Homo sapiens: one gene and its partners. The protein of the gene in region 3 purifies or fractionates together with the protein of the main gene of each other region. This does not show direct contact. Each region holds a gene or a part of one and is shown on either strand. Other genes may lie near its edges.

Region 1 (3,500 bases), on a different chromosome or scaffold from region 3:
GGGACTACAGGTGCCCACCACCAAGCCCGGCTAAATTTTTGTGTGTGTTATTTATTTTTTTTTTTTAGTAGAGACGGGGTTTCACCGTGTAAGCCAGGATGGTCTCGATTTTCTGACCTCATGATCCGCTCGCCTCAGCCTCCCAAAGTGCTGGGATTACAGGCGTGAGCCACCGTGCCCGGCCTTGATGACAAACATTTCTAGTAGTTATGAAAAAGTCCTCAGAAAACCAATAGAAGGCCAGGTGCGGTGGCTCACGCCTGTAATCCCAGCACTTTGGGAGGGCGAGGCGGGTGGATCCATGAGGTCAGGAGATCGAGACCATCCTGGCTAACACGGTGAAACCCCGTCTCTACTAAAAATACAAAAAATTAGCCGGGCATGGTGGTGGCGGGCGCCTGTAGTCTCACCTACTCGGGAGGCTGAGGCAGGAGAATGGCGTGAACCCGGGAGGTGGAGCTTGCAGTGAGCCGAGATTGCACCACTGCACTCCAGCCTGGGTGACATGAGAGAGACTCTGTCTCACAAAAGAAAAAGAAAAAAAAAAAAAAAAGAAAACCAATAGAAAGGCTGGGCGTGGTGGCTCACGCCTGTAATCCCAGCGCTTTGGGTGGTCGAGGCAGGTAGGTCGCTTGAGGCCAGGAGATCGAGACCAGCCTGGCCAACATGGAGAACATGGCCAACTCGTCTCTACTAAAAATACAAAGATTAGCTGGGCATGGTGGTGCATGCCTGTAATCCCAGCTACTGGGGAGGCTGAGGCAGGAGAATTGCTTGAGTCTGGGAGGTTGAGGCTGTGGTAAGCAGAGATCGTGCCACTGCACTCACTTCAGCCTGGATGACAGGGCAAGACCCCATCTCAAAAAAAAAAAAGAAAAAAAAAAAAACTAATAGAAAAAGGTGCTAGGTGCGATCGTCCTACATTTGACCTTGGGTCTCCAAGTTTAGCTTTCTAACACAACCGGCTCTGCCTTTCACTCATGACTCCCCTAAGAAGAATACGGCACTTGTGGCAGAGGGGAAACCTCCGAGGTGGACATCTGCTGTGTTTCAAAGGCCGATATCTATTTTCTCATTTGGCAACAGCAACCCAACCCAGTTTCTCATAAGGATCCCTCTCACCCTCAGTCCCATGGCCCTTGCCCTACAGCTGAGGGTGTGGCATGTGGCTCACATATGGCTCCTTCCTCTGGCCCAAATGGCTGGAGGAAAACTATGTCTAATTTTCCTCCAGCCACAGTTCTCAGGTCAATGAAACACAGTAACATCTCTGCCCAGGCTGCTGTTTGAGTGGCATGTGCTCTTATCCTCCTTGGCAGGAAATCCGCAGGCTGGGCTGCTGGCAGCCATCCTGCATCGTAAGAGGGAAGTCTATCTGAGGATGGGCTAACACAGAGAAAATGAAGCTGAGAGGGGTGGACAGAAAGCCCCTGGATCAAGCTGTATCTTAAGCAGCCTTATCCTGGAATTTTTCTCATAACATTTTTTTTGGTAGAGACAGGGTCTTGCTATGTTGCCCAGGCTGGTCTTGAACCCCTGGCCTCCAAGTGATCTGTCCACCTCAGCCTCCCAAAGTGCTGGGATAATAGGCATGTGTCACTGTGCCCAGCCTATCCTGGGACTTTTCAATGACTGACTTCAGCAAATAAATTCCCAGTCTCCCCCAGATCCCAAACCAGTTCAGATGGGATCTTCTGTCCTTTATAAAGGAAACATTACTAAATTGAACCTTTCCCTGTGGTTTCTCTGGAGGGGAACTAGTGTATGGGGATGACTGGCTAAAATGGAGGTGATATTACTGGTCTCAGCACTTACAAGTCCCTGATGGCTTCCTCCTAAACACTGATCACCCTTGGGGTGGAAAACTGACCTCCAGGAAAAGTGGAGGAGACAGAAGAGAGAATTACCTGCATGGGCGCTCCGCAACTGTTGCAACAGAATGCTTCCCACCTGGGCCCTGCAGCCATCCTGTGTGCCTCAGTTTGACAAGCTGGACAGGCGCAGTCAAAGAAATACTGAGACCTCAGCTTCTGCTGCCTTTCGGCAACCCCCATCCGGCTCTTGTGAGGCCCTGGAGGGAGATCACCGTCAGCCAATATTGAAAGCAAGAGAGAGTCAAACACTACGTAAAAACCTTCAGCTTAGCAGAGGGTCTGGACAATTACCTATCATGTGACAGCTAACCTTTACCCAAATATTTGTGGAACTGGATACTAAAATAAGCTTCCAAGTTGCTGAGACAGGAAGAAAGAGAAGCCAAGAAGTTGTTCCTAGCCCATTTTCAGAATAGGAAGTTTATAGTGATTAAACAGCGAGACATAGTTTAGCCGCAATAGGGCCCTAGCACGAAGGCCATTCCTTCCATCCTCCCTTCCTTGTTTTTGGCCTAAGTGTTCACTGCCTCTTCCAGGAAGCAGACAGTAGACAGGTGAAGTCACATGCCTGGTGGCTTGCTGACTTGCGTCCCCGTCCTTTTCTGTTGGAGAAGGGCAGGATGGCAGTGCGGAGGGATGGCTCACCATAGCAGTGGAGAATCTCTTGCCCCTTTCTAATCCGCTGTGACGCCCGGATGGTGGCGACAGTGCTAATGAAGGACACGCTGGTGTTGGGGCTACAGGAGTGGTTCAGGAGGCTGATAACAGGGAAGATGCCTGTGGCAAGGCGCACCTGCCTGCTGTCGGTAACGATGCTCCCTTTAGGTCCTGAAAGGGCAAGAGGAAAGAAGGAAAAAGGTGTCAGCACATGAGCCCTGGCCTTGCCCTCTGTTCCTCAGAAGATGAGCTGGGCAGCTAGGCCTGCAGCCCGTGTGAGTCATGGCTCCACAGCCAGATCCAATATAAATCAGATGGGACATGACTCACGGCAAGCTCCAGTCCCCAGGAAGCAAAGTGGATGAACGCACACAAAGTCCACTGGAGTCCTGGAACCTAACGACTGTGTCTCTACACCACGAAATAGCCAAAGATAAGAACTTATAAAGAAGTAATAAAAAAGGGATGATAAGTAGGGAGCGTTCTAGATAGTTTCATAATGTTCTCACATAGAAACCAGAGCCCCTGTTGAGGTGACTTCCCAAAGACTTTTAGAGCCCAAGGGCTTTTGTTTATCTGGTCTTTGGTTGGTTAACAGAACAAGCGACCTAGTTACTACCCCAAACTTTATATATTTAAGCAGGCCAGGCACCAGGGCTCCTGCCTGAAATCCCGAGGCTCACGCAGAAGAATTGCTTGAGCCCAGGAGTTCAAGGCCAGCCTGGACAACACAGCTAGATTTGGTCTCTAAAAAAAAAAAATTAAAATATTAGCCAGCTGTGGTGGTGCACACCTGTAGTCCCAGCTACTCAGGAGGCTGAGGTGGGAGGATCAGTTGAGCCCTAGAGAGCGAGGCTGCAGTGAGCCAGGATTGCACCACTGCACTCCAGCCTGGGTGACAGAGCAGGCCCTGTCTGAAGAAAAATAAATAAAAATTTAAAAAAAGTTTTACTCTAATTGTAACATTTA
Region 2 (3,500 bases), on a different chromosome or scaffold from region 3:
ACCCAGAGCGCCTACAAGAATGAGCTCCTGACCACCACAGTGCCCGAGATCCAGAGGACTAACCTGGCCAACGTGGTGCTGCTGCTCAAGTCCCTCGGGGTGCAGGACCTGCTGCAGTTCCACTTCATGGACCCGCCCCCGGAGGACAACATGCTCAACTCTATGTATCAGCTCTGGATCCTCGGGGCCCTGGACAACACAGGTGAGGCGGCCCCGGGAGCCTCATGGGTGCTGGCGCTTGACTTCCTTCTTTCCTCTACTGTCCCGTCAAATATCCGGGTTTGCTCATCTCTCCTAGGTGGTCTGACCTCTACCGGGCGGCTGATGGTGGAGTTCCCGCTGGACCCTGCCCTGTCCAAGATGCTCATCGTGTCCTGTGACATGGGCTGCAGCTCCGAGATCCTGCTCATCGTTTCCATGCTCTCGGTCCCAGCCATCTTCTACAGGCCCAAGGTGGGGCAGCGGCTGGCTCCCCTCTCCCCGGAGGGCTCGAGGAAGTGTTGGGGAGGGGAATGGCTTCTCTCTGTATTACTGAAATGGAACAGAGGGCAGAATCAGAGTTTCTGAAGAATGATTTTGCTGTTCTCGGTTAAGCAGGTTGGGGTAGGGGAAAGGAAGGGCTGGGCCAGTGGTTCTCAGGGAATGCTTTGGAAATTTGCAAGAGCATTTTTTATCTTCTAGTATGGTTGCTCTTGAGCCCTCATGTTTTAGAGTAGACCTTTTTAAAAATTATTTTAATTTTTCTCAAATTGTCAGGGCAACCTATTGACATGTTTGAAGTTCTATGTGTGGGTAGGTGGTAGTGTTAGAACCTCTGGGATGTGCTCAGTGGGCCTGGACCCCCCTGTACTTAGAGTGAAGGTTCTTTTTCCCTTCCTAGGGTCGAGAGGAGGAGAGTGATCAAATCCGGGAGAAGTTCGCTGTTCCTGAGAGCGATCATTTGACCTACCTGAATGTTTACCTGCAGTGGAAGAACAATAATTACTCCACCATCTGGTGTAACGATCATTTCATCCATGCTAAGGCCATGCGGAAGGTAGAGTGGTGGATGAGCAGGATGTTGGGATGAGGGGAGGGTCGAGAGGAAAGGAGGGCTCCCTCCTGGTGCCTCCGTCTCCTGCCCTAGGTCCGGGAGGTGCGAGCTCAACTCAAGGACATCATGGTGCAGCAGCGGATGAGCCTGGCCTCGTGTGGCACTGACTGGGACATCGTCAGGAAGTGCATCTGTGCTGCCTATTTCCACCAAGCAGCCAAGCTCAAGGTGAACCCAGGAGCCCAGTGAGCCCCTCCCAGCCTGATACCTGTATAAGGGCAAAGTTCTTCCTTTGTCCTGGTGTGGTTCTGCAGATCTGGGCTTCCGCCAAAGGCTGTGTCAAGAGTGTTAAGGGATGGGGTCGCTGCCCAAATGGGTGTTGTTTTCCTGATGTGGCTGCCTGTTGTGTCTCCTCCCTAGGGAATCGGGGAGTACGTGAACATCCGCACAGGGATGCCCTGCCACTTGCACCCCACCAGCTCCCTTTTTGGAATGGGCTACACCCCAGATTACATAGTGTATCACGAGTTGGTCATGACCACCAAGGTGAGTCTTTTCCAAGGCACTTGCATAATGCAGGCCCCCTGTCTGGCCAGGCTTTGAAACCCTTCACTGCGTTCTGGCATGAGCTTTTAGCCTGGGAGCCTTGAGGCCACATGCATTGTTTTGCGGGGCATGTGAGGTTGGTTTTCATTTGGGGACTTGGGGAAGCTCTGCACAGGGTTGACCTCTAGACTGCATTGACCTCAGCTGCATGGGCACGATTGTTCCCCACTTGCTGCTTGGGATGAGCAACCCCTCTTGGTGTCATTAGAAGGATTTTCGGAGGGGTTGGGCCTTTTCTTTTAGATACTGGGGGCATTTTCTCAAGTGTGGAGGAGTTTGGATGGGAGTATCTGGGGTTTTTCCTTTCCTTTTTTCAGCCTTGCAGGGCCAGGGATTGGGCCCTTCCCATGTGGCTCCTAATTGTGGAACCACTCTGGGAGGGACATTGGCCCTCCTGTGACCCTCGCCTCCCTGCCCTTCTGCCCGCAGGAGTATATGCAGTGTGTGACCGCTGTGGACGGGGAGTGGCTGGCGGAGCTGGGCCCCATGTTCTATAGCGTGAAACAGGCGGGCAAGTCACGGCAGGTGAGGATTCTGTGCTCTTCGCAGGGGTGCTGTTTGCCTGTGGGGTCGGTGTTCCCTCCGCTTGGTATTGAAGACTTGCGGTCATCCAACCCACTTACTTCTCTCTGCAAACATAAAGGCTGTGATCCAGCAGGCTGGGTCTGTCTGATTCCCCACCACCCACTCCAGTTGTTTGGTAGGCTGAGCCTTTAAAAACAAAACCAAAAAACTCATTATTGAAAAGTCCAAATATTCATGAAAGTGGGAAAAACAGTACAACAGGCCACCATGAATTCGTTGCCTTGCCTCTATAATTGTCAACGTTTGTTCAATTTCACTATTCCTACCCCACTCCACACACATCCATTTTTTTTTTCTGGAATATTTTAAAGCTTATCTCATACATTATTCATCCATAAATACTTGAGTATGTGTCTCTGACTAAAAGGACTTAAAATTTTAAATATAACCTCTGTGCCGTTATCACTCATAAAAAAATGAATACTTAATGTCACCTAAGTCTCCAGTCCGCATTTGGATTTCTCCATTTATCTCAAAGATAACTTCTTATGATCGATTTGCTTGAATTAGGATCCAGGCATTGCAACTGCTTATGTGTGTTAACTGTTTCATTCTAGAACAGGCTCCACCCCACGCTTTTTTTCATGACATTGATTTATTGGAGCAGCCAGGTCATTTGTCCTGTCGAATAGTCCATATGATGTATTTGCCTCATTGCTTGCTCACAGCGGTGTTTAACCTGTGCCTGTGTTTCGTGCACTTGCTGTAAGCTGGCGATGAGTCCAACCGCTCAATTAGATCCCGGCTGAGCTGCGTGTGGCAGAGATGCCTGCATGTGGCACTGTGAACCTCCTCTTAGATGCCTTCAGGAGGCATGTGAGGTCTGGTGGCCCCACCTTTGCTGATGGGAGGATGGATGAGGGGCCCCAGTGGTGGCAGCCTGCCTCTTCCCTGATAGGTTTCCACTGCTCCTCCATCTTGAGGTTTTAGCGTCTGTTGATGGCCATTGCCTAGATCCATATTTAGGGTTGCAAAATGGTGCTGGGCTTTGGCTTACCCCTTTTCGTAGCATAATTCTCCCCATACCAGGCTCCCTTGCATCTTATGCCTGTCTCTTCCAGCCAGCAGGTAATCACATCTTCCCTGTTTTTCTGTACTTCCTAGCATAGTTGTGAACTTGATTTTTCAAAAAAGAAGGAAATGTAAGTACTTCCTGGACTGAGGGATGACTGAGTTAGGACTGATTGTCCAGTGTCTTGAGTCAGTGAAAAAAGCAGGCCTCAGCTGCAGAAGAGAAGGCGGCTTTGGTACTGGGGCAGGCAGCCATGTGGAGCAC
Region 3 (3,500 bases):
TTTTTGTATTTTTAGTACAGATGGGGTTTCACCAAGTTGGTCAGGCTGGTCTTAAACTCCCAACCTCAGGTGATCTGCCTGCATCAGCCTCCCAAAGTGCTGCCATTACAGGTGTGAGCCACCATGCCTAGCTGTAATTTCTTAAAAGACCAAACTCAGAGGGAAATCCTAACATCTAATAATTGTTAGGTAAACCTTTTTTATAAAATATAACTGCTAAACCTGGTAAATAGGTTACTTACCTGCTCTGTCTTCATCCTCGGAATCAGAATCAAAATATATATCATCGTAGTACCTTGTCGGAGCTGTTGCAACTTTTCCATTTCCTGAGGAAGATCCTATTCAAACCAGAAGTAAAGTTTACAGACTAAATCATACATAATTCACAAGGCAAAAAACTCCATATATTCTTCCATCACCTCAAAACAATATCAACTCATTCACAAACTCATTTGATGGTGAAATATTTTCACATCAGTGAATTACTCGATGTCTATGCCCTATACAGTTACAGAGAACTGGCCCTCCTTAAAATGTTCCAAATCTTGAGAAAATTCTTCTCTCTCCCTTCCCACAAATCTCATTAAATAAAATAGCGATATTTTCAGGTTGCCAGCACACATATCTCTACCTTTCAGTCATACAGTATACCATGCAGAACATAGAACAAACATTTTGTTCTAAGAAACATTAGGAGAAAAAGGGTAAGAACCCTATAGGAAGGCAGGAGGAATGAGTCAAGGACACATTCTTCTCCTCAGTTGTGCCCAGGACCATGACATTACCTATACTTATGTCATCATATGCCCATATCCCTAATTCCTCTTAGTTAGCATCTGCTTTAGTTTTTATTATATTTTTATATGCTTTCAGATTTTTCCAGCTAATACATAGCATATCAGGGTGGAAATCAATGCTGAAGAGTCCTACTTCCTTTTTTTTTTTTTTTGAGACTGAGTCTCACTCTGTTGCCCAGGCTGGAGTGCAATAGCACAATCTCGGCTCACTGCAACCTCTGCCACCTGGGTTCAGGTGATTCCCCTGCCTGACCTTCCCGAGTAGCTGGAATTATAGGCAACTGCCGTCACTCCCAGCTAATTTTTTGTGTTTTTAGTAGAGACAGGGTTTCACCATGTTGGCCAGGCTGGTCTTGAGCTCCTGACCTCATGATCCACCCACCTCAGCCTCCCAAAGTGCTGGGATTACAGGCGTGAGCCACTGCACCCGGCAGAAGAGTCCTACTTTCACAAACCAGTTTTCAGGTCAGGTACATTTTACATAAAGACCAAGTATCAAAATGAACTATGTTTCATTACTCACTAAAGTGAAACAGAAATTTGTGATGATACATAATTAAATCTGCCACATTTTAGTGCCATCTAACCCTAAAAATACTTTTGTAAGTTTGTGTGTCTTTTTTTTTTAACTCGAGTAAAAACTGCAAAATAAAATTATGCAAGTAAACAGTATTAACTAATCTCTTTCCAAGAACACAAGACAGTCATCAAACAAACTCCAAGCCAGGCACAATAGTTTATACCTATAATCCCAGCACTTTGGGAGGCCAATGCAGGAAGATCACTTGAGCCAGGAGTTTAAGACCAGCCTGGGCAACATAGTGAGACCCTGTCTCCACAAATTTTTTTTTTTTTTTTTGAGACGGAGTCTAGCTCTGTCACCCAGGCTGGAGTGCAATGGCACAATCTCGGCTCACTGCAACCTCTGCCTCCCGGGTTTAAGCGATTCTCCTGCCTGGCCTCCTGAGTAGCTCGGACTGCAGGCACGTGCCACCAAGCCCAGCTAATTTTTGTATTTTTAGTAGAGATGGGGTTTCACTGTATTGGCCAGGCTGGTCTCAAACTCCTGACCTCGTGATCCACTGCCTCGGCCTCCCAAAGTGCTGGGATTACAAGCATGAGCCACCACGCCTGGCCTTTTTTTTTTTTGAGACGGAGTCTCACTCTGTTGCCCTGGCTGGGGTGCAGTGCCGCGATCTCAGCTCACTGCAACCTCCGCCTTCCGGGTTCAAGCAATTCTCCTGCCTCGGCCTCCCAAGTAGCTGGGACTGCAGGCACGTGCCACCACACCCAACTAATTTTTGTATTTTTAGTAGAGACGGGGTTTCGCCATGGTGGCCAGACTGGTCTCGAACTCCTGACCTCAGGTGATCCACCCACCTCGGCCTCCCAAAGTGCTAGGATTACAGGTGTGAGCCACTGCACCCGGTCGCTACAGATTTTTTTTTTTTTTAGATGGAGTCTCGCTCTGTCGCTCAGGCTGGAGTGCAGTGGCGTGATCTCAGCTCACTGCAAGCTCCGTCTCCTGGGTTCATGCCATTCTCCTGCCTCAGCCTCCCGAGTAGCTGGGACTACAGGCGCCTGCCACCACGCCCGGCTAATTTTTTGTATTTTTAGTAGACACAGGGTTTCACCGTGTTAGCCAGGATGGTCTCAATCTCCTGACCTCGTGATCCGCCCGCCTCGGCCTCCCAAAGTGCTAGGATTACAGTCGTGAGCCACCGTGCCCGGCCCAAATTTTTTTTTTAATTATCTGGGCACAGTGGTACATGCCTGTAATCTCAGTTATTCAAGAAACGGAGGTGGGAAGATCATTTGAGCCCAGGAGTTTTAGGCTACAGTGAGCTATGATCATGCCACTGCACTCCAGCCTGGGTAACAGAATGAGACATTGAATCTAAAGTAATAAATAAATAACTTTTTTAAATGAGAAAAGGAAGACTCTAGCTCAGACTGCCAAATACATTCACTCCTTCATTCAATAAATATTTATTGAGCACCTACTGAAAGTGCTGGGAACATAGAAGAGCACAAATAAGGTTCCTGCCCTTACAGAGCTTACAAAAATATATATAAAATTGAACCAAAAGTTTACCAGTTCCCAGAGAGGATAACTTGTCCTCCATTGTTTTCATGGTAGAATTTAATTCAGCTTCCATCTCCTTTTCAAATTCATCTTCACTAGATGATTCACTTTCTCCGGTAAGACATTCTCTGATGAGTTTTCGTTTTTGGTCAGGAGTTCCATGTAAAAGCACATCCACTTCATCCTCAGAGCTAGCATACATTTAAATCAAAAAGAATATGAATATTTAAAAATTAAAATAATTTTAAACTCCCAGCATCTCACTGTCCAACAACAATTTTAAGTATTACATGGTTACATTTGATGTACTTATACATTACATATAGCTATTCTCACTTAATAAGCCAGTTCTGCATATTTCCAATCTTCTTTAATTTTTTTTTTTTTTTTTTTTTTTTGAGATGGCATCTCAGTCTGTGACCCAACCTGGAGTGCAGTGGCATGATCTCAGCTCACTGCAACCTCCACCTCCCCAGTTCAAGCAATCCTCCCACCTCGGGTTCCCCAGTAGCTGGAACTACAGGCACATACCACCATTCCCAGCTGTTTTTTTGTTTTGTTTTGTTTTGTTTAATTTTTGTCGAAATGGGGTTTCGCCATGTTGCCCAGGATGGTTT
Region 4 (3,500 bases), on a different chromosome or scaffold from region 3:
AACATGAACTCTCACATGCTGCTGGCAGAAGCATAAACTAGCACAGCCTTTCTGGAAGCTGTCATGCATTACACATAAAAAGCCTTAGAAGACACACATACCACTGGGCCCAGCTATTTCGTTTATTGGAATTTGCTCAGGCAATCCTCAGCCTGGGCCTGGGCAACATGGCAAAACCCCGTCTCTACAAAAAATACAAAAAATTAGCCTGGCGCAGTGGCACATGCCTGTGGTCCCAGCTACTTGCGGGGCTAACGTGGAAGGATCACTTGAGCCCGGGAGGTCAAGGCTGCAGTATGCCGGGATCGCACCACTGCACTCCAGCCTGGGCGACAGAGCAAGACCCTGTCTCAAAAAAAAAAAAAAAGTACGCTGCAGCAGTGATAACAGTTAATCAATTAACATACACACCAGGTTTCTGTCGGCGTGGCCGTCTCTTTACTCGAGGACCAACTCCTTGTCCTTCTTTCCAACCCATTTTTCTTAGCAATTCGAAACCAACAGATAATCTAGGATAGCAAGGCATTGAAAATGAACTTTTCAAAATAACATTAACAAAGAATATGAAATAAGCGGCTTCTGAGTTCCTGCTCAGTTCCTAGGCCTGTCTTGCCTGGGCCCTTGCCCTCACCCACATTACATCTGGCGTGACCCTGCCATTCCAGCCACAGCAGGCTGCACTGGGGTGCACACCTGAACTGGGGAAGTCAATCAGATGACCTTTCTCCTGGGCCTTTACGATGGGATCACAGGGACTCTAGACAGTCTTTGCTAAGCATGTGGCCTGGGAATCCCTGAAGGTCTAAGGCTGCCATATCAGGCCACAAGCCCAGGAGCACAAGGAGATACACAGAAAGTGAGGGTAGAAGGAGGCAGACAGAGGCGAGGCTATAAGGTCTGGAGGGGTGGTGGGAGAAGTCACTGTAATTCCTAACAGCTCTCCAGCCTCTGAGAGCCCCAGCAGCACAGCTAGTGGCTGGAGTTCTTAATCTCTCCGTGCAATGACAGTGCAAGATCCTTTACGCAAAACCCCCTTTTTCACTTAGACTTTGAGCCTAAGAAGGCTTGTCTCACTTGCAATCAAACTATCCCTCAGCAAGAGAATCACACATATGCAAAACACCGGTGCTAAGATCATGACAGTCAGAAGGAAATGCTCACTTTGCTGGCGTTATGAGGTCATCAAGGAGGGTGGCTCCAGGAATAGGGGCAGTAGCAGCGGCCAACTGCCTAGCCTTTTCTCGTATTCTGTCTTTGGTTTTGGAGGCAAAATCGTCTGTGGTGACAATCGCTTTAGGTGCTATCCCAAATTCACTAAGATCCTTCAAAAAAATTCAAACAGAATTACATTATTTGGAAAGTGACTATACACAATACATCACATAGTTTTATTTCTGTTAAAAAAAAAAAGTTAAAACTACAAAATTTAGTTCTGGATCAGCAGAGTGACAGACATACACACTGACTTTATTTTTTATTTATTTATTTTTTTGAGACAGAGTTTCTCTCTTGTTGCCCAGGCCGGAGTGCAGTGGTGCAATCTGGGCTCACTGCAACCTCCGCCTCCCGGGTTCAAGTGATTCTCCTGCCTCAGCCTCCCAAGTAGCTGGGATTACAGGCACACACCACCATGCCTGGCTAGCTGTTTGTTTTTAGTATAGATGGGGTTTCACTATGTTGGTCAGGCTGGTCTCGAACTCCTGACCTCAGGTGATCCACCCGCCTCAGCCTCCCAAAGTGCTGGGATTACAGGCATGAGCCACCGTGCCCCGCCTCACACTGACTTTAGAACCTCATCCTCACACAAGGTAAAGCCAGTGGCCAAGGGCAGGGCATGATAGTCGCTGCTCATTAGGGCCACCCCGAGCATGACCAAGCTGGGAAGACAGGAAGTAATGGCCGTGTTCTTCTCGACAGTATCTCAAAGGTCAGCGTGAAAGAGACAAAGCCTGGAGTTCCAGCCAGCAAGCATTCACAAGTGTGAGTGCCAGGCCTAGAGTCAGGTGCCTTTGCCTTTACTGGAGCAGATGTTGCTGGCTGCCTGTCCAACCATTGGCACGTTTCCTCTTTCCTTGCAGAGTCCTGACGTTGTCTAGGCACCTGCCTTCCTCTGCACCGCCACACATTGCAGGAGTGGTACTCCCAGTGTTGGGGAGGCAGGATTATGAAGTGGGGCTTTGTGTCTTATCTAAGCCAGTCATTTTGATCCCACTTTCCTTGCCAGGGACTGCGTTAGGAATGGGCATGTAAAACAATTTGTGCAAGCAAATGTAGAGAAAATTCATGGTAGGACTCATATGAAAGGCTACTTTGCTTTTAAGAAAAGAGACTGCCGGGTGCGGTGGCTCACACCTGTAATCCCAGCACTTTGGGAGGCCGAGGTGGGTGGATCACCTGAGGTCAGGAGTCCGAGACCAGCCTGGCCAATATGGTGAAACCCCGTCTCTACTAAAAATACAAAAATTAGCCAGGCATGGTGGTGCACACGCCTGTAATCCCAGCTACTCGGGGGAAGCTGAGGCAGGAGAATCACTTGAACCTGGCAAGCAGAGGTTGCAGTGAGCCGAGATAGCGCCACTGCACTCCAGCCTGGGCAACAGAGCAAAACTCCGTCTCAGGAAAAAAAAAAAAGAAAAGAAAAGGGACCAAGAGGAAAGTTCTCTTGAACAACGTCATCCTGGATGTGCCACCTGGAACTACTACAGCCATTTTGCAATCATGAGGAGAGGTAGTATAAGGACAAGCTGCCAACAGAAGACTGAGAAGAGAGAGCCTGGGGTCTCAGCACATCTAGACTTCTTGCTACATGAGATATGTTTCCTTCTAGATGATGCTACTCAAAAAAAGAATGAGACTTCCTTCCCTCTTACCTGCAGCCTCGCACATGCTGATATAAATGTTTTATTTAATCTTTTTTTTCCTTCAACTTTTAAGTTCCAGGGTACATGTGCAGGATGTGCAGGTTTGTTACACAGGTAAATGTGTGTCATGGAGGTTTGCTGCACAGATCAACCCATCACCTAGGTATTAAGCCCAGCATGCATTAGCTATTCTTCCTGATGCTCTCCCTCCCTATTTAATCTTTATCATGGGTGAATCCGCGACCAGGTTTTAAGGTAGCAGAAGTTTAATTTTAGTTCAGTCACTCACAGTTCTTTACTGCAGTGTGCCTGAGAGTTACTGTGGAAAGCTGCAGACCCAGCACCATGGATACTGAGCTTTTGAGGCAATAGAGGCTTTACTTTTTTTTTTTTTTTTTTTTTTTTTGAGACGGAGTCTTGCTCTGTCGCCCAGGCTGGAGTGCAGTGGCGCAATCTCAGCTCACTGCAAGCTCTGCCTCCTGGGTTCACGCCATTCTCCTGCCTCAGCCTCCCGAGTAGCTGGGACTACAGGCACCCGCCACCACACCCGGCTAATTTTTTGTATTTTGTTTAGTAGAGACGGGGTTTCACCGTGTTAGCCAGGATGGTCTTGATCTCCTGACCTCGTGATCCGCCTGT

Evidence for each region. The genes of interacting proteins can lie anywhere in the genome.
Region 1: the proteins of EAPP (region 3) and SMYD4 purify together in Homo sapiens (affinity purification with mass spectrometry, with the first as the bait; one large-scale study listed by BioGRID). This does not show direct contact.
Region 2: the proteins of EAPP (region 3) and DHX38 purify together in Homo sapiens (affinity purification with mass spectrometry, with the first as the bait; one large-scale study listed by BioGRID). This does not show direct contact.
Region 4: the proteins of EAPP (region 3) and GPATCH1 purify together in Homo sapiens (affinity purification with mass spectrometry; 3 studies listed by BioGRID and IntAct, with this or other methods). This does not show direct contact.

The regions. Positions count from the first base shown.
Region 1 is NC_000017.11:1,784,903-1,788,402, forward strand, and holds part of SMYD4 (protein-lysine N-methyltransferase SMYD4), read right to left. Parts: intron 2,703-3,500; coding exon 2,520-2,702; intron 2,072-2,519; coding exon 1,908-2,071; intron 1-1,907. UniProt on the Homo sapiens protein: Protein-lysine N-methyltransferase. Monomethylates PRMT5, modulating its transcriptional activity. May also act as a histone methyltransferase. Plays a critical role in cardiac development.
Region 2 is NC_000016.10:72,107,347-72,110,846, forward strand, and holds part of DHX38 (pre-mRNA-splicing factor ATP-dependent RNA helicase PRP16), read left to right. Parts: coding exon 1-202; intron 203-298; coding exon 299-453; intron 454-880; coding exon 881-1,036; intron 1,037-1,126; coding exon 1,127-1,261; intron 1,262-1,453; coding exon 1,454-1,579; intron 1,580-2,068; coding exon 2,069-2,164; intron 2,165-3,500. UniProt on the Homo sapiens protein: Probable ATP-binding RNA helicase. Involved in pre-mRNA splicing as component of the spliceosome.
Region 3 is NC_000014.9:34,533,202-34,536,701, forward strand, and holds part of EAPP (E2F-associated phosphoprotein), read right to left. Parts: intron 3,075-3,500; coding exon 2,893-3,074; intron 339-2,892; coding exon 243-338; intron 1-242. UniProt on the Homo sapiens protein: May play an important role in the fine-tuning of both major E2F1 activities, the regulation of the cell-cycle and the induction of apoptosis. Promotes S-phase entry, and inhibits p14(ARP) expression.
Region 4 is NC_000019.10:33,091,181-33,094,680, reverse strand, and holds part of GPATCH1 (G patch domain-containing protein 1), read right to left. Parts: intron 1,323-3,500; coding exon 1,162-1,322; intron 510-1,161; coding exon 412-509; intron 1-411.